Regions from separate parts of the Homo sapiens genome. Here all the other regions are linked to region 2. Evidence: fine-mapped expression QTL. A gene starts in region 2. Each other region holds a variant in brackets. All regions are shown on one strand. Distances are from middle to middle. Region 1 overlaps LOC107985871 (a long non-coding RNA gene). Region 2 holds the start of CYP1B1 (cytochrome P450 family 1 subfamily B member 1). Region 3 has its middle 120 kb from the start of ATL2. Region 4 holds the start of CYP1B1-AS1 (CYP1B1 antisense RNA 1). Region 5 overlaps LOC107985871 (a long non-coding RNA gene). Region 6 overlaps CYP1B1-AS1 (CYP1B1 antisense RNA 1). Region 7 holds the start of LOC107985871 (a long non-coding RNA gene).

What was found. PIP is the estimated chance that this variant, and not a neighbour inherited with it, causes the effect.
Region 1: its variant is fine-mapped to the expression of CYP1B1 in whole blood (TOPMed, PIP above 0.99). The same link has a PIP of 0.9 or more in T cells, blood mononuclear cells and monocytes.
Region 3: its variant is fine-mapped to the expression of CYP1B1 in whole blood (TOPMed, PIP above 0.99).
Region 4: its variant is fine-mapped to the expression of CYP1B1 in whole blood (TOPMed, PIP above 0.99).
Region 5: its variant is fine-mapped to the expression of CYP1B1 in whole blood (INTERVAL, PIP above 0.99).
Region 6: its variant is fine-mapped to the expression of CYP1B1 in whole blood (TOPMed, PIP above 0.99).
Region 7: its variant is fine-mapped to the expression of CYP1B1 in whole blood (TOPMed, PIP above 0.99).

What each region holds. Positions count from the first base shown.
Region 1 is chr2:38,122,796-38,126,861 of GRCh38, forward strand. All of the region lies in intron 2 of LOC107985871 (a long non-coding RNA gene), which reads right to left. Among named protein-coding and RNA genes, the nearest start is that of CYP1B1-AS1, 6.3 kb to the right of the region's middle. The variant G/A (reference allele first, on the strand shown) is at 2,032.
Region 2 is chr2:38,074,091-38,078,151 of GRCh38, forward strand. CYP1B1 (cytochrome P450 family 1 subfamily B member 1) reads right to left here and starts at 2,061. Exons shown (of 3, transcript NM_000104.4): 1 at 1,690-2,061; 2 at 256-1,299. The coding sequence starts at 1,298. RefSeq lists a promoter at 2,042-3,417, cis regulatory regions at 2,056-2,063, 2,984-3,013, silencers at 2,057-2,146, 3,057-3,176 and an enhancer at 2,884-3,082.
Region 3 is chr2:38,257,604-38,261,669 of GRCh38, forward strand. No RefSeq gene overlaps it. Among named protein-coding and RNA genes, the nearest start is that of ATL2, 120 kb to the right of the region's middle. The variant C/A (reference allele first, on the strand shown) is at 1,972.
Region 4 is chr2:38,128,150-38,132,215 of GRCh38, forward strand. CYP1B1-AS1 (CYP1B1 antisense RNA 1) reads left to right here and starts at 2,956. Exons shown (of 3, transcript NR_027252.1): 1 at 2,956-3,041; 2 at 3,362-3,465. The region is part of intron 2 of LOC107985871 (a long non-coding RNA gene); the gene reads right to left. The variant C/A (reference allele first, on the strand shown) is at 2,141.
Region 5 is chr2:38,113,764-38,117,829 of GRCh38, forward strand. The region is part of intron 3 of LOC107985871 (a long non-coding RNA gene); the gene reads right to left. Among named protein-coding and RNA genes, the nearest start is that of CYP1B1-AS1, 15 kb to the right of the region's middle. The variant G/A (reference allele first, on the strand shown) is at 1,661.
Region 6 is chr2:38,171,854-38,175,919 of GRCh38, forward strand. All of the region lies in intron 2 of CYP1B1-AS1 (CYP1B1 antisense RNA 1), which reads left to right. It also overlaps a transcript of LOC107985871 not described here. Among named protein-coding and RNA genes, the nearest start is that of CYP1B1-AS1, 43 kb to the left of the region's middle. The variant A/C (reference allele first, on the strand shown) is at 1,817.
Region 7 is chr2:38,147,061-38,151,126 of GRCh38, forward strand. The region is part of intron 2 of CYP1B1-AS1 (CYP1B1 antisense RNA 1); the gene reads left to right. LOC107985871 (a long non-coding RNA gene) reads right to left here and starts at 3,106. Exons shown (of 4, transcript XR_007086290.1): 1 at 1-3,106. It also overlaps the pseudogene RNU6-951P. RefSeq lists enhancers at 1-587, 1-701, 1-81, 112-201. The variant T/C (reference allele first, on the strand shown) is at 2,049.

The DNA.
Region 1 (4,066 bases), 49 kb after region 2:
TATTGCTCAAAATGACTCAATTTTCTAATCTTTGAGACTTCTTAAAAAGAAATGAACCCCAAGTAGAGTAAAGGTGGACTGCAAAAAACAGCTTAGTCTGAATGAAAAAAATTCATCCTTGGCTCTGCATCTAAGAAACTGGCTGTGTGTCCTCAGACAATTCACTTAATGTCTCAGATCCTCAACGTCTTCAACTGCAAATAAAGGGGTTAGAGGAGATCATCTTTAAAGCCCAACTCAGCTCTAACATACTATGATTGGATACCATACACTTGTCCACATTCTTTTCTCTAGCACTTGGGGATTTCTGCTCTTCCAGCCTTTACAAATACAACCTTTCACTGTCACACTCATTCTTCCTTGTCCTTAAAACAGAAAGCCCAGGCATAGTCTGATGCCACTTCTGAGGGCTATAGCAGGTGGCATCTAGTGTCTCTATAGTAACTATTTACACTCCTAGGGAAAATTATCTCACAGAAGCATAGAGAGCCTGACCTTGTCTATAAAGACAGTAAGGTACAATGATTAAAAGAATAGGCTCTAAAGTCAGGCAGACCTGGGTAAATCTGCCACCTACTAGAGAGCTTGGGCAAGCAAGTTCACCATGCCTGGTACCTAGTGAGTGCTGTGGGCCTCTATTCTGGAGGGACAGCAGGGCCTTACGAAACCAGCATGAGATTGTAAATGCCTTGCAGGCTGGATTTTCAAGAGGAAATGCTACCCCCTTTTTCTCCAACATCTCTGGCAAAATTGCTAACCCAAAGGTACTAGGCCCAGCTAGTTATGAAGGGGATGGAAGTGATCTCTATCCAAGGGAAGAACATTTGAATTGATGTTTAAAGGAGTTGTTTAGATTCTTATGAAGGAATAGAGGAAGAGTAGAGGCAAAGACAGAGAAGGGGATGGATGAGAATAAAGAACAAGAAAAGAAGCAGTAGGAGACAAATGAGAAGGTTAAAGCTGATAATTTTTACTTTTATGATAAAAGGAATTTCTAAGCAAATTCTAACCATTTTATCAAGAAGAAACAAATTCACTAACTTATATTTCTGCTTAAAGAAATGCATGGGCATTTTCTTCGCATGTGCAGTTTGTTTAAAAATTAGGCATTGAATGCTTTTTAAAAAATATCTAGATCTATTCTGGACATGCACATTCCAATTGATAGATAGATCAAAATGTCTGATTTTCTTACTGGTAACTTGGCACCAGTTGCCAGTGGCTTCATATGAACCTATCAGCTGCTGTGGGATGGCAGAGCAGTTAAGAGTCCAAGACTAGTCCACGCAGGCCTGCAGCTCCCACATTCTGATGCATCAAAGCCACAGCAAGTTCCTAAAACATAGGCTCTGGATCCAGATGCTTTTGGTTCAAATTTTCACTTCATTATTTCTCAGATGTGTGACTTATGGCAATTACTTACTTCTCTAAGGCTCACTTTCCACATCTGTAAAATAGGGCTAATGATAGTATTTGCTTCATAAGATTGGGGATTGAATGGGATAATGCACTTAGCTCAATACTCACCCATAAACTTTTTTTTTTTTTTTTTTTTTTTTTTTGAGACAGAGTCTTGCTCTGTTGCCCAGGCTGGAGTGCAGTCGTGCGATCTTGGCTCACTGAAATCTCCACCTCCCAGGTTCAAGCAATTCTCCTGCCTCGGCCTCCCATGTAGCTGGGATTTCAGGCACACACCAACACCCCCGACTAATTTTTTTGAATTTTTAGTAGAGACAGGATTTTACCATGTTAGTCAGGCTGGTCTCAAACTCCTGGCCTCAAGTAATCCGCCCACCTTGGCCTCCCAAAGGGCTGGGATTACAGGCGTGAGCCACCACTCCCAGCCAACAATATTCAATTACATACTCAATTACTATGTTCTTTTTCTGGTAACTAGAATGTAGGATCTTATGATTGGCCCCAAGTTCAAAGATATGGGCAAGTAAGTATAATATAAGAGTGTAGATACAGATTTTGTAGGATATATGCCATGGCCTCTGTCCCATATCAGTTTAATACCTATTTTCCAAT[G/A]TAATGCCCTGAAATCCCAGAAGAGGAAAAAAGAATTTTTTTCTAACAATTAGAAACATGATAAAAAAAACTATCAAAGGTATATTCATTCAGCCATGCAAATTGTAAAACCATAGCAATCATTCTATTTGTTTGGTCACAGTTTAAAAAAGGAAATTTGCTATAAGAAAAATAAATACAAACAAACACAAAAAGAGTTGAATGCCACCTGCAGAAGAAGCACCAATCCAACTATTTTACCCTGCCCACATTCACCATGTTTCTCACAATTGCCTATAAAAAGTAGTCACCATTTATTGTACCAGGCAGTGAGCTAAGTGCTTTATGGACCCTGTCTCGTTTAACTGTCCCCAGAGTCCTATGAGTAGGTATGTTAGTGCCATGCCCATATCACGGATAAGGAGATATGCCAGGTCAGAGAGGCGAGTTGGGATTCACACGCAGCAGACTTGCTCCAGGGCCTGTGTTCTCAACACTGCATGGTGCCGCTTCTGATCTGGATTGTTAAATCTCAGCACCCAGCACTCCTGGCTTGGGTAGAAGGGAATGGGCCCAGAGGTGCTGAGAATGGATCTCATGTACACCTAGGGTCGAAGTTGGAACAGAGAGTATGTGGAGAGCCTGGGCTAAGACTGAAGCCGCCATGATGAAAACCAAACTCAAGCAGTCTTGTTTTTTAAAACCAATGGGAGTAGTAAAGTATAAATGTAAATCTCAGTTATCTTATCATGCCACCCTATAGGTGTTTCCAGTAGTTACTTTAGAGCTATCAAAGATACATCTGAAATAACGGTACTGTGTATATACTTGAGTCCTCTTCCCCAGCTTGACACTCCTAGGAGTCAGGTGTTCTCTGGGCCAGATCATTTGCCCACAAACATAGCAATATGCCTAGCCTTCTCATTATATAAGGTCCCCCATTATATGGGGGACCTTATATAATTTCATCATATGGATGAAAAATGGGATTATTTTATTATTTGACTCTTCTCTCTAGGATTCAAAGTGCTTTTATTTATAGATTTTCATGATTTAACCAATTCACCCAAGAAGTAGGAAGAGGGCAGCTTTATTATTTTCAAATTGTGGACTGAGAAACTGAGATATGCAGAAAGAAATAAAGCTGCTCTGCAATTTGGAAAACCATCTGTGATGCTATAAAAACGTCTCACTGTACTCTCAACCACATAAATCACTATTTTTATTGCCTTCTCTCTGGATGAGATGTGGCTTAATTTGAGAGAGCTGTTTATCATTTGGCAAGCTGAAAGAACCTAATTTCAAGTCTCCATTCTAGTGGGTGGTAAGAATAAAGGGAATTTGCTTTAAGGGAAGAGGAAATGATAAGAATGGGAAGGAAACGGTTAGACCTAAAAAAAATCGATTTTGAAACCCTTTGGATTATCATGGATTTAATTTGCCAAGCATGGGTGAGGGGTCACATGGAATGGGTTTGAATTCTAAGCCACCATTATGACCACTCACTTAATGTTTCTTCCTACCACTCCCATTCTACAGTGAGCCCATGATTAAGATAACAACAGCTTAAATGAGTTAGTGCATAGTATGGTTTGGCTCTGGGTCCCCACCCAAATCCCGTGTTAAATTGTAATCTTGAGTGTTGGACGTGGGGCTTGGTGAGAGGTGATTTGATCATGAGGGTGATTTCTAATGGTTTAGCACCATCCCCACAGTGCTGCCTTATGATAGAGTTCTCAGGCGATCTGGTTGTTTGAAAGCATGTAGCACTTCCGCTGCCCTTCTCCTGCTGGCCATGTGAAGGTGTGCCTGTTTCTCCTTTACCTTCTGCCATGATTGTAAGTTTCCTGAGGCCTCCCCAAAAGCAGAAGCCTTTACAGCCCACAGAACTGTGAGCTGATTAAACATCTTTCTTTATAAATTACCCAGTCTCAGGTAGTTTTTATAGCAATGCAAGAACAGACTAATGAAGAAAATTGGTACCAGAGAAGTGAGGCATTACTACAAAGATACCTGAAAATGTGGAAGCAGCTTTGGAACTGGATAATGGGCAGAG
Region 2 (4,061 bases):
ACTCGCAAGCAGGGGAGGGGACGATAGAGACAAGATAGGAGACCGGAGGGGTCGGGGCACCGCTGGGTGGGGCGCGTGCGCGTGTCGCAGCCCTCACTGTGAGTCCCTTTACCGACGCGATCTTGGTTTTGAGGGGTGGGGACCTGGAGCGAAACCCCAAACCCGGGGCCCTGCTTGCAAACTCAGCATATTCTGTCTCTACTCCGCCTTTTTCAGAGGAGAAAAGACCTGGCCCACGCCTCCCAGAGGCTTTACCTGGTGAAGAGGAGGAGCAGCCACTGCAGCGCGGTGGACAGGGTGTCCTGGCTGGCGCCGAAGATGTCAGTGATAGTGGCCGGTACGTTCTCCAAATCCAGCCGCGCGCCACCACCGTGCGAGTCCCCGGCCGCCTTCTTTTCCGCAGAGAGGATAAAGGCGTCCATCATGTCGCGGGGGGCGGCCCCGGGCCGAAGGCTTTCGCAGTGCCTCAAGAACTTGTCCAGGATGAAGTTGCTGAAGTTGCGGTTGAGCTGCTCGAATTCGCGGAAAACGGTGCGCACCGGGTTGGGGAAGTACTGCAGCCAGGGCATCACGTCCACCAGGCTGCCCGCGCCCACCGTGCGCCCGAACTCTTCGTTGTGGCTGAGCAGCTCACGGAACTCGGGGTCGTCGTGGCTGTAGCGGCAGCCGAAACACACGGCACTCATGACGTTGGCCACGGCCACGACGGTCAGCGGCCTCGGGTCGAGGAAGGCGCCGTCCGCGCTGCCGCGCACCAGCAGCGCCACCAGCTCGCGCGCCTCGCTCAGCACGTGGCCCTCGAGGACTTGGCGGCTGCGCGGCTGGCGCGTGAAGAAGTTGCGCATCATGCTGTGGGCTGCGCGCCGCTGCACCTTCCAGTGCTCCGAGTAGTGGCCGAAAGCCATGCTGCGGCCGCCGGACACCACACGGAAGGAGGCGAAGGCCGGCCGGTCGGCGAAGGCCGAGCCCTGCTGCACCAGGGCCTGGTGGATGGCGCGCTCGCCATTCAGCACCACTATGGGGCAGCTGCCCAGGCGGATCTGGAAAACGTCGCCGTAGCGCCGCGCCAGGCGAGCGAACGAGAGGTGAGCCGCCTGGCCCACCGCCGCCGCGTTTCCGATCAGTGGCCACGCAAACGGGCCCGGGGGCGCGGACCGGAGCTGCCGCCTCCGTTGCCTCAGCAGCCGCTGGCCCACATGCACAGTGGCCAGCACCGACAGGAGTAGCAGGAGCGTGGTCTGCTGGATGGACAGCGGGTTTAGCGGCCAAGGGTCGTTCGGGCTGAGGCTGGTGCCCATGCTGGGGACAGAGAGGAGAAGGCGTGACACTCAGGGGTGCAGAGACAGGAGCGGGCGCCCCACGCCCCTACCCCAGCCTCTGGGGACTGAGTGCCGTTGGGTGGAGAGGTCGGAGCTGACTCTCTGGAGAAATGGCCGAAGACGCCCCTTCCCATCCCCAACCCACTCTCCCTTGGAGAAGAGAAGGGGCGTGTTTCCACCTCGCTGTAACCCAGCGCCAAACCCTTCCCCTCCCCGCAAGGCGCGTAACGGTTCCTGCAATCTGGGGACAACGCTGCGGGCATCGAGGCGGTGGCGCTTGATTTCCTTTAAAGTACCTACCACGCCACCCGCTACCTGTAATAATCCATCTGAAGAGGTCGCCGGGCAGCGCCTCGGCAGACAGACTGACCTGCGGGGAGGTGCGGTTTCCAGTGGCGCGGGACAGCCGGCTCCGAGAAGGAACTGGGACCTTTGCCTAGGGCAAGACGTCAACAGGAACCCGCAGGCCCGGCCTGGACACCTGCTGCCCTCACTGGAAGCTTTAACTCCCACTCGAGTCTCTTGGCGTCGTCAGTGCCAGGAGCGCTTGGATTGGGATGGGGACGGAGAAGGGTGCCTCGCTCGCCGAGCCCCGCTGCCCTTGGGGACCTGGCAAAGTCGAGGTTTCCTCACAGCGTTGAGATTGAGACTGGGGGTCGGTGAGTGGCGTCAATTCCCATGCCCTTGCGGCTCTCACAACTGGAGTCGCAGAAGCGCTCGCTCCCACTCCCACTCCAGAGTCAAAGCGCGCCATCCCGCTCCTCCGGGTTTTAAGGACTGGGTAGAAGGAGGGCAGCGCGACCTGGCAGGGCGGGGCCTGCGGGGGGCGGGGCGCGCCGCACACCAGGCCGCTTTGACCCGGACTCCCGTCCAGGCGCACCGGCCGGCCTCGGAGCTCTACCAGCAGGCTTTCATGGGAGCGGAGGTGCCCACGTTTCCATTGTGCGGTAACCGCGCTTCATCACAGCCACCTCCAATCGAGGCCGCACGGTGTCCCCAGAACCACGCTCGGTACAACCTGCCCCGGCCGCTGCGCTCGACTTGGGAGCGCGCCCCGCCCCGAGCGCACGACCTCCCTTCCCTCTCCGCGACTTGAGCTTGCTTCCCGGAAAGCCAGTGTAGTGGCAGCGGTTTGCCTCACAGCGCCCCTGGTTGGTTGTTTAAATTTTATCTTAGGTTCTCGCAAACAAATTGCCACCTCAGTGGAGGCTCTTTGGCATGCTAAATTTTTTCCAGTTCTTGCGGCGAGATCAGGAATCCCTAAAAGTAGCCGCTCCCCCGCCCCGGGGCCCCGACAGTGCTTGGGCACACAAAGGCTCCTGGGGCGCAGCTGGCCCTGAGATTTCCCGCGTAGAGGCCACTCCAGGTGGCGCCGCCCGCTGGTGGGCGCGGGGCCGCCCAGGCTGCGATGGAAGCCGTTGGCGCAGGGCGGGGAGCCAAGCTGGGGCGACTGGGGGGGCCTGGGGGAGCTAGCGGGGCGGGACCCGAGCGGGGCGGAGAGTGGCAGGAGGAGGCGAATCTCCGCGCTCCGGCGAACTTTATCGGGTTGAAGTTTCTGCTGTCGCCTCCCCTTTGCGTGCGGAGCTGGGCTTTGCGTGCGCCGCTTCTGGAAAGTCGGCTCCAGTCATATCCCTGGGCGCTGCCTGCGGCCGCTCCTCCCGCGCTTCTCACGGCACCTGACACGCGGAGGCGGCGGCCGAGGGTGGGGTGCCGGCCACCACCACCCTTGGCGTGGGGTGCCGGCCGCCACCACCCTCGGCTGCGCACGCACAGTCGCGCCTGCCAGGCCAGCGAGGCGGACGCTTGGGCCACCACCCGCAGGCCGAGCCCGGGCGCGTATCGCCACCTCGCTGCGCACCGGCGGCTCTGTGGTCTTCCTGGGCGCGCTTGCGGTCGCGAAGGGGGCCCTCCCTTTATAAGGGAAGCCGGAGGCGCTTGGGCGGGGGTGGCTTCCCCCGCCTGGCGCGCCCTTTCCTACATGCTGATGCATAGGATTTTCAAGACAGCTAAGAGAACAAGGACTTCACGAGGCGGGGGGAAGGGCGAACTCGAGGGAAGAGGTGGGATGTATCTGGTTAACCAGGTAGGAATTGTACTGGCTTCATCAAAGGATAAATATAAAAGTGATAGGTTCACCAGGGACAACCCTGCACTTTGAGCTCCACTCGCGCTGCGAATCTCGTGCTATTATTGACCTGTTTACAGATGAATAAACTAGGGTTCAGAGAGGTTGCGTGACTTAACCCAGGTCGCGCAGCCATCAAGAAGTGGAGCCAGGGCTTGAAGCCACCAAGTCCCACTCCAGATCCTTCACATAAGTTTACACGGAAGAAAATTGCAGATAAGAGGCCCAAATGCCTTCTTTCCTGCCTCCCTTAAAAAAAAAAATGCACGTGGGGCTAGGCGCAGTGGCTCACGCCTGTAATCCCAGCACTTTGGGAGGCTTAAGCGGGCGGATCACTTGAGGTCAGGAGTTCGAGACCAGCCTGGCCAACATGGCGAAACCCCATCTACTAAAAATACAAAAGTTAGCCGGACGTGGTGGTGCACACCTGTAATCCCAGCTACTCGGGGATCAGGGGGGAAGGCAGCAGAATTGGTTGAACGTGGGAGGCAGAGGTTGCAGTGAGCAGAGATTGCACCACTGCACTACAGCCTGGGCAGCAGAGTTTAAGTGAGACTCTGTCTCAAAAAAAAAAAAAAAAAAAAAATCAGCTGGAAGAACTTTTTAATTATTGTTTT
Region 3 (4,066 bases), 180 kb after region 2:
GAGTTTGAGACCAGCCTGGCCAACATGGCAAAACCCTGTCTCTACTAAAAATACAAAAATTAGCCAGGCGTGGTGGCATGCCTGTAGCCCCAGCTACTCGGGAGGCTGAGGCAGGAGAATCACTTGAACCCAGGAGGCGGAGGTTGCGGTGAGCTGAGATTGTGCCACTGCACTCCAGCCTGGGCCACAGACTGAGACTCTGCCTTAAAAAAAAAAAAAAAAAAAAAGAGAGAGAGAGAGAGAGAGACAGAGAGAGAGAGAGAGAGAGAGATCCTCCCACCACAGCCTCCGGAGTAGCTGGGACTACAGGCATGCACCTCCATGCCCAGCTAATTTTTTTGTACTTTTAATACAGACAGAGTTTCGCCATGTTGCCCAGGTAGCTCTTGAACTCCTGGGCTTAAATGATCCACCCACCTTGGCCTCCCAAAGTGCTGGGATTACGAGCCACTGTGCCCAGTCATATTTTTTTTTTAAATAGACTTTATTTTTTAGAGCAGTTTTAGGTCCACAACAAAATTGAGCAGAAAATACAGTATTCATATATACTCCCTGACTGCATGTGCATATAGCCCCCACCCCACTATCAACATCCCCCACAAGAGGGATACACGTGTTATAAATGATGAGCCTACAATGACAAATCAATATCACCCAAAGCCATAGTTTACATTAGGCTTCACTTTTGGAGTTGTACATTCTATGGATTTGGACAGATATATGGCATGTATCTACCATTATACTATCATAGAGAGTAGTTTCACTGCCCTAAAAATCCTCTGTGCCCCGCCATTTCAGCCCTCCCTCCCCCAAACCCCTGACCACCACAGATCTTACTACTGTCTCCATAGTTTTGTCTTGTCTAGAATGTCATATAGTTGGTATCATATGAAGCCTTTTCAGATCGGCTTCTTTCACTTAGTAATACGCATTTAAGGTTCCTCCGTGTCTTTCCATGACTTGATCGTTCATTTCTTTTTAGCACTAATTAATATTCCATTGTCTAAATGTACCACAGTTTATTTATCCATTCACCTGCTGAAGCATATCTTGGTTGCTTCCATGTTTTACAGTTATAAATAAAGCTGCTCTAAACATTTGTGTGCAAGTTTTTGTTCATTTGGGTAAATACCAAGGAACATGATTGCTGGATCGTATGGTAAGGGTATGTTTAGTTTTGTAAGAAACTACCAAACTGCTTTGCAAAGTGGCTCTACCGTTTTGCATTCCCACCAGCAATGAATGAGAGTTCCTATTGCTCCATATCCTTGCCAGTATTTGGTGTTGGCAGTGTTTTGGATTTGGATTTTGGCCATTTTAACAGGTAAGTGGTATGGCCTTTTTTTTTTTTTTTTTTCTTTTTGAGATGGAGTATCACTCTGTTGCCCAAGCTGGAGTGCAGTGGCACAATCTTGGTTTACTGCAAGCTCCACCTCCCAGGTTCAAGCGCTTCTCCTGCCTCAGTCTCCCACGTAGCTGGGATTATAGGTGCCTACTACCATGCCTGGCTAATTTTTTGTATTTTTAGTAGAGATGGAGTTTCACCATGTTGGTCAGGTTGGTCTGGAGCTCCTGTCCTCAAGCAATCCATCCACCTCAGCCTCCCGAAGTGCTGGGATTACAGGCATGTGCCACCATGCCCGGCCTCATTCTTTTTTAATGTCATAGTTTTATGACATGGGCTGCAACATTCTTCTAGAGTCTGCACTTCATTTGATATTTGTTTTTCCTACTACTTTCCTTCTTTCTTCTTGTAACATCTTTGTATATTAAAGATCCTGTGATGGCTCCTTTTTTATTACTTTTTACAGAAACAGTTGATTTTTTTTCCTGTATCAGCTTTTTGCTTTCTTACTCATGTGATTTTCCTGTATTAGCCAACCAATTACGGTGAAAATGGTGACACAGAAGGACAGGGGGAAATGGGGCAACTCATAGTTCCTTTTCCCTTCAGTTGTTCTTTTTCCTTTC[C/A]TTTTCTTTCAAAAAAGAGAGAGGGTCTTGCTCTGTTGCCCAGGATGGAGTGCAGTGTTGCAATCATGGCTCTCAGTCTTGAACTCCTGAGATCAAGCGATCCTCCCAGCTCAGCCTCCAGGGTAGCTAAGACTACAGGCCTGCACCACCACGCCAAGCTAATTTTTAATTTTTTTGTGGAGATAGGGTCTCACTATGTTGCCCAGGGTTGTCTCAAATTCCTGGCCTCAAGTGATCCTCCCCTCTCAGCCTCCCAAAGCACTGGGATTACAGGTGTGAGCCTGTGCACCCAGCTCAGTTTTTCTTTACTCATCAGTAAGTCAAAGGTACAGACTGTTGGTAGAAAGTCCTCATACAAAAAAATGAAATGAAAACAATCTGAGCTCATTTTGTATAGCATTTCCATTGTTCTGGCAAACACAAAATATATATGAATGTACAAACTGAGAAATATAAATTGTATAATTTTAGTGATTCTGCGTAAAATTTAAATGTTCTTCTATTTACATTTAAAATTGCCATTTTATGCTAATATCATTAAATTTTAATTTTTCTTTTCTTAGAACAACAATAAATTTTAAAAACTTCATGACAAGTCGAGAGGGAAAGTACAGAGGAAAGGAAGGAATTTTATGTTTTAGTAATTTTCACATCATTTTTCCTTGATTTTCGAAGGAGGGCCTTGCATTTTCAGGCCCTGCAAATTATGCAGCCAACCTTGCATAGGAGGTTAGTGCTGGAAAGACCTTAGAGATTATCTAGCTCAATCCATTCATCAGACACAAAAGATGGACTGAGAAAGATGAAATGATATTTTGCTTAGGAAATTAAAAGGGGAGAGTAGGATGGGAAAAACTTCCTCCATCTTCAGATCTTCAGGAGTGAACGGTGGTTTCACTGAAAGACACTAAGTCCACGGGGAGCCGCACCTCTCAGATCTGTCTCTTTGCAGGTTGTCTAACGCCCACTCCCTCCCGTGTTGATCTGGGCTTCTCTCACATTAGAGGGCAGTAGAGCCAAGTACCCAGATCCTTTGCAGCTGCTGCATATTTTGGCCCCACGTCCACCATCCTGGGTTTCCCCCTGTGGGTGTCCTTCCCACACATTCAACATCCAAGCAAGGTCCTACACCACCAAGAGAGTCCCGCCAGCCCTGGGCACCTACGGGGACTTCCAGTGGACACGTATTCTATTCTTGGGAACTTTCGGTTTCTAAGAAGTCCACAAAGCCTTTAAAAGTTTGGAAAAAGAGTTGAAAAGAATCGTAAGAGGTAGGATTTAGAGGAGAACGGGGAGTCCCGATGCAACGCCCTGAGTCTTCCTCCCTTAGACAACTTTTTCCTTCCTGTGAAGACAGTATGCAAGGAAAAAAAGAGAGTGCTAGAACTGAATTGGGAACAATGTAATGTCTTTTTCTATTGCTCTGGCAAAATCCTTGCTGAGAAACTGAGAAGTGTTGATTCTGAAAGCTTTTTTAGAAATTCTTTCCAAGGCAACTTAATTCAACAACACATTTAACAAGAGTCTTTTGTCAGACATCCTGTCCTCTGATATTTTAGAAAACACCACACACACACACACACACACACACGTGCACATGCATGTATGCACACACACTTTATTTTCACTTTTCTTCCCATCCAGCCCAAGGCATGCCCAGAGCACAGCAAAGCAACGCTTGGAGCTTTGAAAGGACACCATGTCCTTTCAAAACATGATTTTGAATTCCATCCTGCCTTCTCTCCACCTACATTAAAACTCTTGAAGGACATTTTCTTCTAATACTGTCTTTTTTGGGACTTCTTCATGTTGCCTGCAAATTATCTCTTTTCGAATCACAGCGTTTTGGGCACAGACCATCACTGCCCACGGAGTGATGAAGCAGACCGGGGCTGTGGTTACAGAGTCAGAAAGAAGGGTCTCCTGCCCCAGGGACCACCACACCCTCTCCCAGCATTCAAGCTGCCCAAGCTTTCTCAGAAAACATCTTTCCAGGCCATCACCAGCAGCGGGTTTTACCAAAAACGTCCCACTCTCTGGCTTCCTTGCTGATCTGTGGGCCTTGCTGGATCCACCCGCTCACGCACGGCCCTCC
Region 4 (4,066 bases), 54 kb after region 2:
TTGTATCTTGGAAGTAGCTAACTTGTTTTTGATTTTACAGGCTCATAGGTGGAAGGGACTTGCCTTGTCTCCGATTAGACTTTGGACTTGGACTTTTGAGTTAATTCTGGAATGAGTTAAGACTTTGGGGGACTGTTGAGAAGGGATGGTTATATTTTACAATGTGAGAGGATATGAGATTTGGGAGGGGCCAAGGGTGGAATGGTATGGTGGGGCTTTGTGTCCCTACCCAAATCTCATGTTGAACTGTGATCCCGAGTGCTGGAGGGAGGGTTTGGTGGGAGGTGATTGGATCACAGGGGTGGTTTTTAATGGTTTAGCGCCATTCCCCCAATTTCTTAGGAAATCTGCTTGTTTGAAAGTGTGTAGCATCTCCTTTGCCCCTCTCCTGCTGCTAATGGCCTGTTTCCCCTTCACCTTGTGCCACGATTGTAAGTTTCCTGAGGCCTCCCCCAGAAGCAGAAGCCTGTACAGCCCACAGGAACCATGAGCTGACTAACCATCTTTTCTTTATAAATTACCCAGTTCTTTATGGCAACGTAAGAATGGACCAATAGAGCACATCACTAGGGTAGCACAAAGGAGAGGGCCCAGAAGCAGAGGAGAGATAAACAGCTCATTTTTTTCATCTTTCTCAATGTTTCTTGCTCACTCTCTGTTGTTTGCATCCATTTTTCATTTCATCCCATTTCCTCTTTTTTCCCTTTCATTTCCTCATTTTGGGACAGCAAGAGGTCATGTTCTTGCTGCCAACAGTTACGACATTTTCAGTAGTCATGACAGCCACAAAGCCAGGGCTGGACTTGTCCAGAAGTCTGATCTGCAGCAGGAGGGAGTCTGTAGTGTGCAGGGGCTCTCCAGCTGTCACTTAGATCCCAAGCTGCCCCTTCACTTTTAATTTTGCTGATGGTGGCTTTTGTCAAAGGCAATTTAAAATTTAGGGCTAGGTAGTCTAATCTGTCAATCTTTTCTTTTCTTTGTGGTTTCCAGGTTTGTGTCTTACTTAGGAGGGCCTTCCCAATGCTAAAATTATATATATAAACAGATATACCACAATTGCCTAAACAGAAATTTGGGCAAGCTGGCACATTTGAAACAGGGCTGTCTCCTAAAATTTGGAACGTGTGGATAGCGTGCATATGCTTGGACTCTAGGACTTACTTTCTCTGGAAAAATCCGTCTAGCTTCCTCACTCACTGCCTCTGCCTCCCAGCTCCAGCCTAGCCATTTCATCTTATGGTGGGGGAGCACTCAGTTGCTAGGGCCAGAAACCCACTCAGAGTAACTTAAGTAAATGGGGATTACTTGCACAGTGATAACGGAATACTGTGAAACCCAGTTTGAAGAATTGCACCTGGATCACTGAAGGGCTAGAGTCTGGAGCTGCCCTTCCTCCTCCCTTTCTCTCAGTTATCTTTGTCTCTGCTCCATCCTCCCCCTTCGTCAAGCATACTCTGTTACCACATGACCTTAAATGACTGTCTAACTCAGTCCTTGAGCCCACAGAATCTTGTGAGTCTAGCACTCACAGATAAAAAAACACCCTCAGGCTTTCTGTGTCCCAACTCCAAGTTCTAGATAAAGATGTCTGATTGGTTAAAGTGGGTCATGTTTAAAGTGGGTCTACTCCCAATTCAGTTATTGGTGGCCAGGGCCATGAGCCACATGGTTGCCCCTTGGGGCAGTGGGCAAGGTAAAGTTCACAAGATGTGGTGGGGAGGAAATGACCACTGTAACTCTGTGGTCCAGTTCCCACACCCATATTGTGATTTTTGCTCCCCTTCAAGTTTGCCCTTGATGTTGTCTGTAACTGAATTCTGTTTTCTCCCATGGTTAGATTTATACCAGATCCAGGACCTTTTAGGGAGGGCTGTGGTCCTGTCCCCTTGGGGAGGCTCTGATCTAAGACTGCTCCCTCATGGAAATTAAGGAGAAGGGGAAAGCCTAGGCTACAGATGGAGAAGGATGAGTCATTCCAGCAGCCATGGCCAAGGGAACTCCTGGAGACGTAGGGACTGTTTATGTGGCCACTCACCATCATGCAGGCCCCCAATGGGGGTGAGGCAAGGAAGGACATAGAAAGACTGCTCAAGTGCATTTCTGGTTTTGCTTCCTACCGCAAACGACTCTTGTCATATGA[C/A]TGGGGGAGTGTGGTGGTGGCAATAAGCAGAAAAATTTGAGTCTAAGAGTTGCTTTCTGAATTCTATTAGGGTCAATGTAGTCTAAAGAAGTTGACTTTTGAGGAAATAAATCTTTTCTGTTTTCTGCAGCCAGACTAAGGATTTAGTGGTGAATGGTAGGTGGGAACATAGTGGGACTCTGACTGCTCATACGGCCTCTGTGAGGCTCAATTCTTTTATCTCTAAAAGAGAGAACTGTCTACCTGGTAAGAGAAGATCTTTTGGGAGCCCACTAAACTCTAACATAATGTTATTATACAGTAAGTTCTCACTTAATGTCATCGACAGTTTCTTGGAAACTATAGCTTTAAGCAAAATGACATGTAACAAAAGCGTTTTTTTCTCATCAACGTTATAACAAAACGTTAAAGGAAGTGACATTATTTATGAACCTGCTGCATGTTGTTTTGCTTAAAGTTACAGATTCCAAGAACCTATCGATGACATTAAGTGAGGACTTACTGTACTAGTATCATTTATAACTTATAAAAATGACTTAATTAATATACCACAAAATATGCAGCTTTCATGTTAGAGACCAGATAAATATGAATATTTTGTTAAAATGTCTCTCTTCTCTACTTTACCAGTCTTCACCAACCTCCTCCCTCCAGAATATTCCTCAAGAATATAAAATGCCTCATCAACATGAGACAACAGCAGGAAGCACCCATTCGTAGTAATCCTCTGTATGGAGGAGGCTGTTACATAACCACAAAGGCACAAAGCTGCAGTTTTGAGAACATCTTCCCACGCCAGTTCTAAGCATTGACTTCAACTATGGTTGCTAACACAAGAATCGGCACTGGTGACTTTTGAGCCATCAATCATCCTTTCCTAACACATGAATCTTTTGGAAAAGTATGTGAGATTGGAGATTACCTGTGATGGTTTGGATTTAGATTTTGCCTCCAGGTTTAGGCAATGGTAAATAGGCAGGAGTTTAATAGGAACTAAGGTTATTTGATAATTCCTGGGCCACTGCAAATAGAAAGTGTTGGCAATTTTGTCTTTTGGGCTGCCTCTGATTGAAGGCACAGGCCTGTTTCATGAAGTTCTGAAACATGAACCGGCTGTATCTGCGTCAAAGTCAGTGGTAACCAGGTTAATAGCACTGACAACCATGTTCTTTTTACAGGAAACACAAACGTGAATCACTTGTTCTTACTTTTCTTTTACAGTGGTCTCAAATAGTCAAGACCCCCTGCTGGGAGGAGCTTCTATCCTGCTCTGTGGAAGAAATGGGCATGCCAGATGCCTGGAAGATCAGAGGCTCACATTCCAGGTGGGTCACCCTGGTTCTTCTCATCAGAATCAACTAGAGAGATGGGCTCCCTCTCCATCCCTACCCACGGGCATTGGTCAGGCTGAAAGCAAAGAAAGACAATCCATTGCCCCCAGGAGAACTGGTCTTACTCTAAATCAGTGGCCTGCAAACTGTTTATGTGGATGTCCGGATAGTACATTTTTTGCCTGTGTGGGCCTTCCAGTCTGTCTTAGTTACTCAACTCTGTGATTTTTGAGCAACCATTAGACAGTATGTAAATGAATGAGCATGGCCCCATCTGGCCCTCCACCCACAGGCCATAGTTTGCTGACTCCTGCAAGAGTAAAACCCTTTATGAACTAGAGAGTTCCAGGCTTGAACATGGGTCCAGAAAATATGGGAAGGCAAACCTCACACATTTGTGGTTGTGTGCCTCCTAAGTGCTTTGTGTCACTGTTGGCTTCCAATTCCTAGGAAGGGCCTTGGGCACCAACCGTATGTTGACCCAGGGAGAAAAGGACTTTTGGGAGTGAGAGTCAGAGAATGGGTACCACGTACCCTTCAGATCCCTCAGCTTTCAGATTGACACAGCAACAGATCATAGTCTCCTAAATTCTCT
Region 5 (4,066 bases), 40 kb after region 2:
CTTTCTTAACTGGCTTCCTTCTGGAGCCCAGATTTGTTTTTCCTTGCTCTCTTAATCTCTGTTCACTATTTTCTATAGAAATTACTTTAGAGAGAAACCCTCTTCCAATTGTATTTAAATCCACCCCCCAAATATAATTTATTCTCTTATGAAGCTTTGAAATGGAAAATTTTCCCCAGAAGTAACCAGGCATTGTGCAAAGTCGCATCCATTTTGAACACCAAAGCAGCTGTAACAAATAAGAGATGACAAATGCCATTGTGTAATTTAGTTCTTCATATCAGTTTGTCATTCTGACTCCTTTCTATTTAACTGGATGCTTTGTCAGACTTTGTAATCTAACCATGTGAAGGGCAGTGAATAAAGGATTAACGAAACCCTTTCCAGTTTTGCATGAGCATTTGATTTTTGGCTAACTTCCTAGCTCTGTTCCCATGGAAACCTGATAAAGGAAAGTACAAGTGGGCCCTGATTGGTAAATCCTATCTGGATTGGGACAACTATAAATACCAGAGAAGAAGCCATATTTTCGAGTTTCCCTAAGTGCAGTGACCCTTGTAACTGGCATGACCTTGAGAAGACCATGAAAGTTATGGCCATGGAGTTCCTCCAAGAGATATTAGCTGCTGTGAAATACAGGGCCTCTCATATAGTGTGGCCTCCACACCCCACTGATGTGAGTCTCATTTCTTCACAACTCAGTCCACATGGGGGCCAAAGAGAATAGCTTCTGCCCACTGTGTGGATGGCTTTGTGGTCTGCTGCGAGGTCCCGCAGAAGAGGAAGTCTGGATGTGCCCTACTGACATGCTCTGCCTCCTGGCCTATGAATCTTCTGGGTCAACTGCTGTCTAGAGTGGGCCTTGGCAGTCTTGTGAGTTTGCAGGTTTAATAGAGCCTTATGAGACCTCCTGGTGGGTCTTGTGGATGGAGGTTTTCACTTTTACTGGTTTGAATGAGTGCATTTGCCTGTGAAGCTGTGAGCATGAGACAATGTCCAGTCTTATGGTTTTTACTAATTGCCAGTTTTTCTTTACAAATTAAAAAATAATTTTGTAATGAAAATTGGCAGGTCCCACTTGAGAATATTATACTAAGTGAAATAAGCCAGTGACAAAAAGACAAATACTTTTTTCCACTTCTCTGAGGCACTCATATTCATAGACATGGGAAGTAGAATACTGTTTGCCAGGGGCTGGGAGAGGAGGTAACGGAAAGTTGCCGTTTAATGGATGCAGAGTTCCACCTTTGCAAGATGGAAAGAGTTCTGGAGACTGGTTGGACAACAACATGAATGCACTTAACACTACCGATTGTGCACTTGGTTTAAAAACTGCACATTTGTAAAATGGTTAACGTGGCAAACTTTATGTTATATGTATTTTACCATAATTTAAAAATTTTTTTTAATTGACAGTTTCCTCTAAATATCACACTTAAATCATGTTTTCAATACACAGACTAATTCTAAGTGTTTCCAAATTTCCTTCTAAGTAATATAGGAAGATTTTGTGTTACTTTTCCAATTTCATCCTGCAACCACGGTTAAAAATCACTACTATTCACTTCTTACCATTTGATCTGTTGACAGTTTCAGCCATCAGTCACTGCCGGCTCCCACTTCATTTAGTTACCATGTCCCTCACTAACACAAGATCGCC[G/A]TCTAGGGGCCAATCGTAGAACTACAGGCTACACAGAGGAGAAGGGAGCCAGGCCACCTTTCCCATGCATCCCACTCCTTGAACAGAAAGAGCAACTAAAAAGGGAGGCAGGAGTTCTAAGCACCATCTTTTTTTCACCAGTACAGTTTCCAAGATCTTGCTGCTATGAAAATAAAGATCTCCTAATATTTATAGTACTTGAGGTTAGAATAGTCTTCTAGGTAGAGTACTAATATCTTGCTGATAAAGCTTTTGATGCTGAATCCTTGATTATTCTCTTAATATAATATCTTCTGTGCGAATAAGGCTAAAATGCTTGCATACACTCTTGTACTCACTTAGGAATGTAATAGAGCAGTTTGGGAGAGTGACTGAATGCTTCTGCTTTGGGCAAATTTGCCACAAAATCATATTATGCAATCACAGGGTCACAGAACATTAGAACTTAAAGAGCTTTAGAGGCCCGTGGTCTCTAGCAGATCCCTTTGAGAGTCTGATAAAAATTAGAGGTTTACGTACCATAAAATGCTATTTTGCACAAAGCTTTGAATACCATTTTAAAATTTCATCATAGATGAAGAATTCCAGCTTGAATCCCACCCCATAATTTGGAAGTGAAGTTTCTGAGAAGCATCCTGTGTGAAGAAGCAGCTAAACAGAGGGGAATGGGAGTCAGAACTGGATGTTGGAAAGAGATGTGATCCCACAGACAGTGTAATGCTGGGTTGGAACCAGCCCTGGTCAAACCCATTCCCCCGAGTGCACATGTGTTCCAGGGAGAAGCTTGCTGGGGAAGAGAGCAGCAATTTGCCCACCAGAGGCCCAGATCTCCTGGGAGAAATCAGCTGCCATGGAACAGGAGTTTTTCTTCATGCTAGAAAGGGAAAAGAACATGAATAAGTGGCAATCCAGGGACAGCCAGAAGGAACCTGGACAATGGCTCACCGGCTGAGCAGAGATAGAGTTGCACTGGGTGGGGGGGGCGGGGGTGGGGGGCAGTTGACAGCAGCCTGGATTGTGAGCAAGGAGTACGAAGAAATAATAATTGAAGTAGCAGAAGGTAGCAAGGGGTGCAGACCAAGAGCACAGGCACTGCAGAGAGAAGTCTGGATTATTTGTGAGGACTTTCCCTAGGGACTTCTAGAAAGAAATCACTAGTGAGGTCTAAAAGAAGACTGGACTTCCAGTGTGGTGATAGGAACATTGCTCTTTGAGTTCTTACTACAAATGAGGAACTTTGATTTGCCAGGAAACAAAGGGTTCAAAGAACCAATTGTGATATATTTTGGCTTAAATCCCCCCCACTGAAATATGACAGGAGTCAAATTGGGGTACCAGGTAAGTCTTGTGAAGGTGCTGCCTGGGGAGTACCCAGCTGTCTGGCACTTTCATAATATCTTTCTGAACCTCAGTTTCCTCATCTACAAAATGGGATTAGGACTTGTTGAGCATCAAGGTTCCTTCCGACTTGAAAAATCTTCTGATTCTATGACCAAACTGGAAGGCCTGGGTTGGGCTCTCTCAGTTCTGCAGATTTAAATGAGTCATTTCTGAACTGTTGGCTTAAGGCCTATCCTTTTCACTCAAATATTCCCTTGAGGCATCATTTTTTTTTTTTTTTCAAAATTGGGAAAGCGAAGGATACAAGAAGTTGGAAGGAAAGCCCATGAAAGAAAAAAACATTTACTATAATTAAGAAAGAAAATTAAACAGATGATGATCAGAACTGCGGTTATAAATTAAAGTTAACTGATTCCAAGAGTGTACGCCATCAGAATTCGCCCTCATAACTGGAAATTTAGAGGCAGGGCAAGCTTCAAGTTTGCCTAATTCAGCAGTTCCAATCCCATTTCCTTGGGATTCTCAGCTCTGCCTCATCTGTGTTCAGTTTAATTCTCAGGCTGGGGATAACATGGCTATTGCAATAATAGGGCCAAGCTTGACAACATCCAGAGGGAGAGACTCTCTTTTCCTATGGCTCTCTCTTAAAGGTGGAGAATTTTCCAGAAGCCCCAGCAAACTTCCCCATAAATCTTATTAAACCTAATTGGTCCATATGCCTATTCCTGAACCTCTCACTGGCAGGGGGATGAGATTATACTTAGACAATTTAGGCCTAACCTGGAAGTACAAAGACTGCAATGGGGAAGGGGTGAATATTTGAAAAAAATCAGGGTTTGTTGGAATGAAGTGAAGAATGGCTGCTGGGCAGACAGTCAGCGGTATCTTGTCAGAATCAGCTGTTGAAATGCAGTGGGGCGTATGACCATGCTCCCCATTTAACAGATGGAGTAGTTAGGCCCAAGGTCACACAGTTGGGTTAGAGCTAGGGACAAAGACCTTTCTACTCAAAACCCGAGGCTTCTCTATGTACATTTCAAAAGGCTTAAATTTTGGCTTATCTTT
Region 6 (4,066 bases), 98 kb after region 2:
TCCTCTGAAAATAGGGACAGCTAATTTTGTAATGGATTGCCAGCAAAAGCTGTGACAATGCCTACTCTGGAAGTCTCTAAATTTCTTTTCAACCTGAGAAGGGTGTTCCATGATATTTACTGGAGTAAGAAGTGATGGAGGAGGTAGAATAGTTCTGGAAGTCAGGTCTCTAAATAGAACAAATCTTGGGATCCTCCAAGTTTCAGTCTATGCATGGAATTATGTTTAAAGAGGCAATATCTAGTAGCTAAATAATAGCTAAAATTGTTCCAATCATGACTTGCACCTCTCAAAGATCATTATTCAAGTAATGCTTCTATCCTTTCCTCCAGCTCAGTGTTTCCTGAACTTCCCCTGCACTGATGCTCTTGCTTACCTAAGCCTCTTCTTCAGCCTCTTCTCCATCCCTGGACAATTCAATGCACTGCATGGACCTTGCTTAGATTCTGATTTGAGCAAACCAACTTTTCTTCTTCTCCTTCTCCTTCCTCCTGCCTCCTTCCTTCTTCTTTCAGATAGCATCTCTCTCTGTTGCCCAGGCTGAATGGAGTGGTGCAATGACAACTCACTGCAGCCTCAACCTCCTGGGCTCAAGTGATTCTCCCACGTCAACCTCCCCCAGTAGCTTGTACTACAGGCACTCAACACCGTGCCTGGCTAATTTTTGTATTTTTTGTAGAGACGGAGTTTCACCATGTTGCCTGGGCTGGTCTCAAACTTCTGAGCTCAAAAGTGATCTGCCTGCCTCGGCCTCCCAAAGTGCTGGGATTACAGGCATGAGCCACCACACCTGGCCTCAAACCATCGTCAATGCAACACTTTGAAGACAATGAGGGAAATCTGAATTTGGATAGTGTATTAGATGATACCAATAACATATTATTAGTTTTGATAGGTGTGATTAATGGTATTGTGTTTATGTAAGAAAACACCACTATTTTTAGCAATCAACACTTAGATACAGAAAGCTAAAATGACACAATTCTGGGATTCGGTTATCATACATCAGCCAAAATAAAGGAGGAAGGAAGGAAAAATGTACAGAAGTAAAAGTAGGAAAATACTGATAATTCTGGAATTTAAGTGATTGATGTTTGAAGTCCAGTACTATATTCTCTATTTTTGTGTATGGTTGAAATTTTTCCTATTTCCTGGGAAAATTTTCCTTGAAAAACTTTTTAAAGAATTTTAAAACTTCTTTTCAAAAGAGAAAAAGAAGGACTGGGGTGGTGGATCATGCCTGTAATCCCAACACTTTGGGAGGCCAAGGCAGGCAGATCACTTGAGGCCAGGAGTTCGAGACCAGCCTGGCCAACATGGTGAAACCCCATCTCTATTAAAAATGCAAAAATTATCCAGGCAAGTTTCCACACACCTGAAGTCCCAGAGAATCTCTTGAACCCAGGAGCCGGAGGTTGCAATGAGCTGAGATGGCGCCACTGCACTCCAGCCTGGGTGACAGAGCGAGAACTTGTCTCAAAAAAAAAAAAAAAAAAAGGGAGAAAGAGAAAAGCAAATGCAAATATCTTCAAACGTCATAAGAAAAGGCAAAAGTGAATCCGATAAATATATTTTAAAACAATAATAAAAGAGGCATTTTGCTGACAGATAAATTCATGAAACAAGACTGACTTTTTTGAATGCCATTCATAGAACTGCCAGGTCAGCTGTGTAGTGTGAGGTATATTTCAATGCAAAATACTGAAATTATAAAAACAGGATTATGCACACAAATGTTTCAAGCCTTTATAATTTTTTTAAGTCCAAATGGCATAGGTCCATTTATAAAATATTTTCTGAATTTATATTATGATTT[A/C]AACTAGCAATATCCTATTAATTAACTTATTTAAAATTCATAAGGAGACAAGTTATTTAAAAAAAAAAAACACTCTTGAACTGAGTAAAAAATAGCACGAAGTGAGGTTCAGCTCTGGGGAGAAGGGAAGTTGTGCTAAAACTTTTCAAAATGGAATTTAACCTCAGACTTTTAAAGCATCACTTTCTTTAAGGATTCACGGCTTTCCTCCCACACTGGTCTGGGGCCAGTGTCTGGAGTAAAGTATTGCTACTCCTAAATGAGATTTTAGAAAGTAGCATAGTTTCTGAAAGGAGCAGCCACTGGAAACCAAAAACTTTCTCAGGGTACTCAAACGGTTTGAAGAGAACTGATATTTGAAAACGGAAATCCTTCCATTTGTGACAACATGGACAAACCTGGAGAACATTATGCTAAGTGAGATAAACCAGTCACAGCAAGACAAATACTGCCTGATCTTTTGTATATGTGGAATCTAAAATAGTTACTCTCCTAGAAGCAGAGAGTAGAATGGTGGTTGTCAGGGCTGGGGTATACAGGAAATGAGGAGATGTTGGTCAAAGGGTACAAAGCTTCAGCCATGCAAGAGGAGTTAGTTCTGGAGACCTAATATACAGCATAGTAACGACAGTTAACAATACCGTATTGTAGACTTGAAATTTGCTACAAGGGTAGATCTTAAGTGTTCTCACCACAAAAGAAAAGAGGCAGCTATGTGAGGTGATGGGTAAGTCAACTAGTTTGATTGTGGTGATCATTTTCCAATGTATACATATATCAAAACATCAAGTCATATACCTTAAATACATGCAATTTCTATTTGTCAGTTATGCCCCAATAAAGCTGAAATTTTTTTTTTAAATGAGAACTGATGTTTGCATCCAGTTGCTGCTAAAGGCACAAATTTTCTTTAAAAACTATTGAATGATTTTCCAGCTCTTACAGACATACTGGGAAGAAAAAAGTTAAAAACTATTTGAGAAATTTGGATTGAACTACCTCATCCTGTATGAGGTAAGGCCAATGTGCAATCTTGCATTGCTAATCACTCAAGCAGAGTGCTCAGAAGCTGGGAAACAGGCTGCGGTTAAGAACATTGCTTAAGGAAGAATAATTAGATCCTTTCCGTGTCTCATAGCCACAATTTTTTTCCAGCTTTGGCTGTTGTTTGAGCAAGACCTTGTGTATCAAACATTGATCTAGCCAAGTGGCTTAGTGGAGAATTTGCTCAAATTGGTTTTTTAGTATCTTGTTGGCAGGAGGGGAAATGACTGCTTGAACGTTTCAGCCTTAATGCTGACATGTGGTGACTTGAAGCCAGGTGAATGAAGGTTCCTCCAGCTAGAGAGGTAAGATGAACATGCCGGACCAGGAAGAAAGCAGGTCATCATGTTAGACAGGTGCAATTATGTGCAGAGACTATAAAAGAAGAGAAAAAGACATTTAGTCATCAGAGAGCAGCCATTCAAGTAAGACCTTGAAGGAAAGGGAGGGTGAATCAAACAGAAAATATAATGTAAGCAAACGCACAGAGGCTATACTGTGGAGAGGATGTGGGGAAGAGGGAAGTGGTCCATTTGACTGGAACAGAGGGTAAATTTAAGGCAGTAGGAGGTCATAAGACTTATGGAAAATTTGGAATGCCAAAATGGGACTGTTATGTGTTAGGTTGATACTGGGTGGGGGCACTGAGGATTTTTAAAACGTGATCAGGGCTGCCTTGTTGAAGGTAAACCTAGCGGTGGTAAGTCAAATGAAATGGAGTCATGAGAGAACAGGTGGTACTAATCACTACCAGTACTGAGTGCTTTGCAGATGCTACTTCATATACATAATCTGATTTAATTCTGATAGCAAGAACCGTTATTAGCCCACTTTACAGATGATAAAATTGAGGCTTAGGGTGATTAAACAACTTGCTCAAATTCACACAGCTAAAGCAGAAGAGGCAGTGTTTTAATCTAGACACAGGTACCTGCCCTTAATCACTATGCTTGACAGCTTCTTAAGCTAGAATGGGTGGTAGGTGACCGGGGTCTGAATTAGGAATTTGGAGGTAGTAATGGAAAAGAGGGATCAAATTCTTAGAGGTAGGATAGGCAAGACTTCACCAACAGGAGCCTACGGAGGTCTGTGATTTGGTGGCTGCGTGAAAAAGAAGAATGATACTGTTACTAACCTAAATAAAGAAACCAGAAGAAAGACTTGGCATCGATTAAAAGATTATTAATATGGTTTTAGTTATATTGA
Region 7 (4,066 bases), 73 kb after region 2:
TCTCTGTCTGACTCAGCAGTGAGGCCACACAGGCCTCCCTGCTGATTCGAGAATGGCTCCCACCTGAGGCCTTGGGCCCCCCTTGTTTTCGCCCCCACATACCCATCTGGCTTCCCCTTCACTGCTTCCAAGGCTCTCCTCAGAGAGCATCCTGTCAGACCAGTCTTTCCTGGACATGCTGAGTGTACCTTTCCCCTATTTCATTTTCCTTCGTGGCACCTTTTACCACCTGATATGTTCAATGGCTCTATGTTTGTTTGTAGTAAGTCTCGCCTGACTAGAATATAAGACCCATGGGAGAAGAGACTTTCTGCTCTACCCTTGGCACATACCGGGTGCTCAAAAAATATTCAAGTGCTCGCTTCGGCAGTACATGTACTAAAACTGGAACAATACAGAGAACATTAGCACGGCCCCTTCACAAGGATGACACACAAATTTATGCAGCATTCCATAATTTCGAGAAATACAAATCAAAACCACAATGAGATAACATCTCACACCAGTCAGAATGGCTATTATTAAAAAGACAGAAAATAAGAGTTGCTGGTGAGGCTGCAGAGGAAAGGGGAAAGCTTATATGCTCTTAATGGAAACACAAACTAGTTGAGCCACTGTGGAAGACAGTTTGGAGATTTCTCAAGGAACTCAAAATAGAACAACCATTAGACCCAGCAATCCCACTACTGAGTATATACCCAAAGGAAAGTAATTCATCCTATCTTAAAGACACATATGCTCCTATGTTCACTGCAGCACCATTCACAATAGCAAGGACATGGAATCAACCTAAGAGCCCATCAACAGTGGATTGGAGAGAGAAAATGAGGTACAAATACACCATGGAATACTATGCAGCCATAAAAAAGAATGAAATCATGTCCTTTCGCAACATGGATGGAGGTGGAAGGCATTATGACCTCCATAAATGACCTAATGTAAGAACCTAAAACAAAATATTGCATGTTATCACTTGTAAGTGGGGCCTAAACGTTGAAGACACATGATCACGAAGATGGGAACAATAGGCACTGGGGATCACTAGATGGGGAAGGAAGGGAGCAGGGGGCATGGGCTGGAGTGCCACCTGTTGCGTCCTATACTTATTCCCTGGGTGATGGGATCATTGGGATCCCAAGCCTCAGGGTGATGCAATTTACCCATGTAATAAACCTGCATGTGTACCCTTTAATCTATGATAAAAGTTGAAATTAAAACATAAACAAATAAAATCCTGAGTACTGTTTCAAAAAATATATTTGAGGAAAGAAGGAAGGAAAGAGGGATGGAGAGATGGAGGAAGACTAAAGGAAGGATCGTGGCCCTGAGAGAATAGAGCACAGGCCAGGGGTGAGATACAGAGTGAGATGGGAGCTGAATGGGGTCTCTGAAACTAGACATGGAAGACACCAAAAGAAACATTCCTACTTCATCTTTCCCTGTGCCTGGGATAATTTACTCCTGGATGGTAAAGATATGTCTTGGTTTCATCTGTGTTAAATAAACCTGCACGATGTTACAAGCTGGCATTGCTTCATAAGCTTGACCTTAGCTTTCAAATAGGACCTCGATCATTGCTCAATGACCAAGTCACAAAGTTGCCTAATGATATTGGCCCACAGCCATGTTATTGCAAACATGGCAATGACTGGCCAAAACCAGGTGTGCTCCTTACATTTCTGCCCGGGTGATACTCTCAGAGAGCTCCTCGCCATGAGAACTAAGTCAGTCTCCCAGTGCCAGGAGCCAGGACAATTACGGGGCTTTCCCTATTGTGTGTTCTTGCTGCTAACCAGCTCCCAGGCCTAGGCTTCTGAGAAACAGTGTAGGCACACAAGCTGCAGATCTCTCCTCCCTTTATTCTCTCTCCCCTTCCCCAAACCCACAATAGCCTCTACCATAGTGCTTATTCTTTTGACCTGTTCTGATCTGCTAGCCTAACTATTCCCCAACACCTTTAGGAAGATAGGTCTTCCCTGACCCTCAGTCTGAGGTCTAGAAGCCCTTCTGCCTTGCCTCACAGGCATCTTCCCTCCTCCCCCGTCCCC[T/C]AGACCAGTCCAACAGCAGCCCGTGCAGCCTCTGAAGTCCACTCCCAGTGCTAGCTGATGGGAACCCCATGGGCTCCTGTCTGCTATACAAATGGAACAGACTTTCTTCAGAGCCAACCCCAGCTGCCCCACTGAAGCTGGTTGCCACAGTGATTTTCAGTCTCATACCAGATTCTGATCTCTTCTCTTGCCCACCTTTGGTGCTGCAGAGTGGATCATCTTGTTTTATACTCAAGTCATCATTAAAATTTATAGAAAAAGAGAGAATTTAAAAAAAAAAACACTAAAAAATCACCTTGTACGCATATACCTCAGAAGATCTTTGGCCTAATGGTAATCTGTGACATTAAGGCAAATAACCAAAAATATGTAATTTTTCTATTTATTTCTTTGAGTGGGCTCAGTTGCAGATATATGAATCTGACCAGGGTCCTGATCACTTCCTGCTCCCAAAGACCACCCTTTGAGCCTGTAAGATCCAAAGTCAACTCAGTGGATTAATGTGCAAGTCTAGCCTGAGCCAGTAAGACATGGTTCCCTCTAAGATGCCAGGAAAGGACCTAGGGCTTCCCTGGGCTGAGCTCTTAGGTAAGCCATGGCCTGGCCTGGCCTCTTAGAGGTTGTGCAAGACCAGCCTCTGTGATCTGCGAAGGCCCTGAGTCCCAGACATCGTCTCCAACACTGACCTAGATCCAGTGCCAGCAGGACAAGAAAGTCCCCTCTGCTTTAACCTTTACATGAAAAGAAACTTTGAAATGACCAATCCACATTTTTTTTGTTTGTTTTTTTCTGCTTTCCACAGCCCTTTTCTGTCTGTAAAACCAACCTCCTCTTCTTGGCTCATCAGAACACTCATTCTATTTTATGGAATAAAGTGCTGCCCAATTGTAGAATCAAAAATACAGCAAATTAATGTTTTTTATATAAAGTTTTTGATACATAATAATTACACATATTTATGGGGTATCTGTGATATCTTGACACAGCCATAGAATGTGTAATGATCAAATCAGGGTATTTAGGATATCCATCGCCTTGAACATGTATCATTTCTTTGAGCTAGGAACATTTCAAATTTTCTCTTCTGGCTATTTTGAGATACTCAATATGTTTTTGTTAACTATAGTCACCCTACTTTGAGGCTGAATACTAGCGCTTATTCCGTCTAACTATATGTCTGTACCTATTAACCAACCTCTCTTCATCCCACACACCCTTCATAGCCTCTAGTAGCTACCATTCTTTTCTCTACCTCCATGAGATCCATCTTTTTAGCTCCCACATATGAGTAAGAATATGCAATATTTGTCTTTCGGTGCCTGGCTGATTTTACTTAACAAGATGCCCTTCAATTCCATACATGTTCCTGCAAATGATAGAATTTCATTCTTTTTTACGGCTTAATAGTATTCCATTGTGTGTGTGTGTGTGTGTGTGTGTGTGTGTGTGTATCACATTTGCTTTATCCATTCATCTGTTGATGGACACTTAGATTGATACTGTATCTTGGCTATTGTGAATAGTGCTGCAATAAACATGGGAGTGCAGGTCTCCCTTTGATATATTGATTTTTTTTCCTTTGGATAAATACCCAGCAGTGGGATTTCTGGATCACATGGTAGTTCTATTTTTAATTTTTTGAGAAACTTCCATAGTGTTTTCTATAATGGCTATACTGATAAATGAATTTAACAAGGTTGCAGAATACAAAATCAACATACATAATCAATAGCATTTCTATATACCAATAATTAACTTGCTGAAGAAGAAATCAAGAAAGTAATCCCATTTAAAATAGCTATAAAAAATTAATTGTCTAGGAATAAATTTAATCAAATTTAATAAATTCTTTCCGATGAAAGAAATTGAAGAAGACACAAACAAATAGACGTTCCATGCTCATGAATTGGAAGAATTAATATTGTTAAAATGACCATACTACCCAAAGTAATCTACAGATTCAATCTCTTATCAAAATACCAATAACATTCTTCACAGAAATAGAAAAATAATCCTGA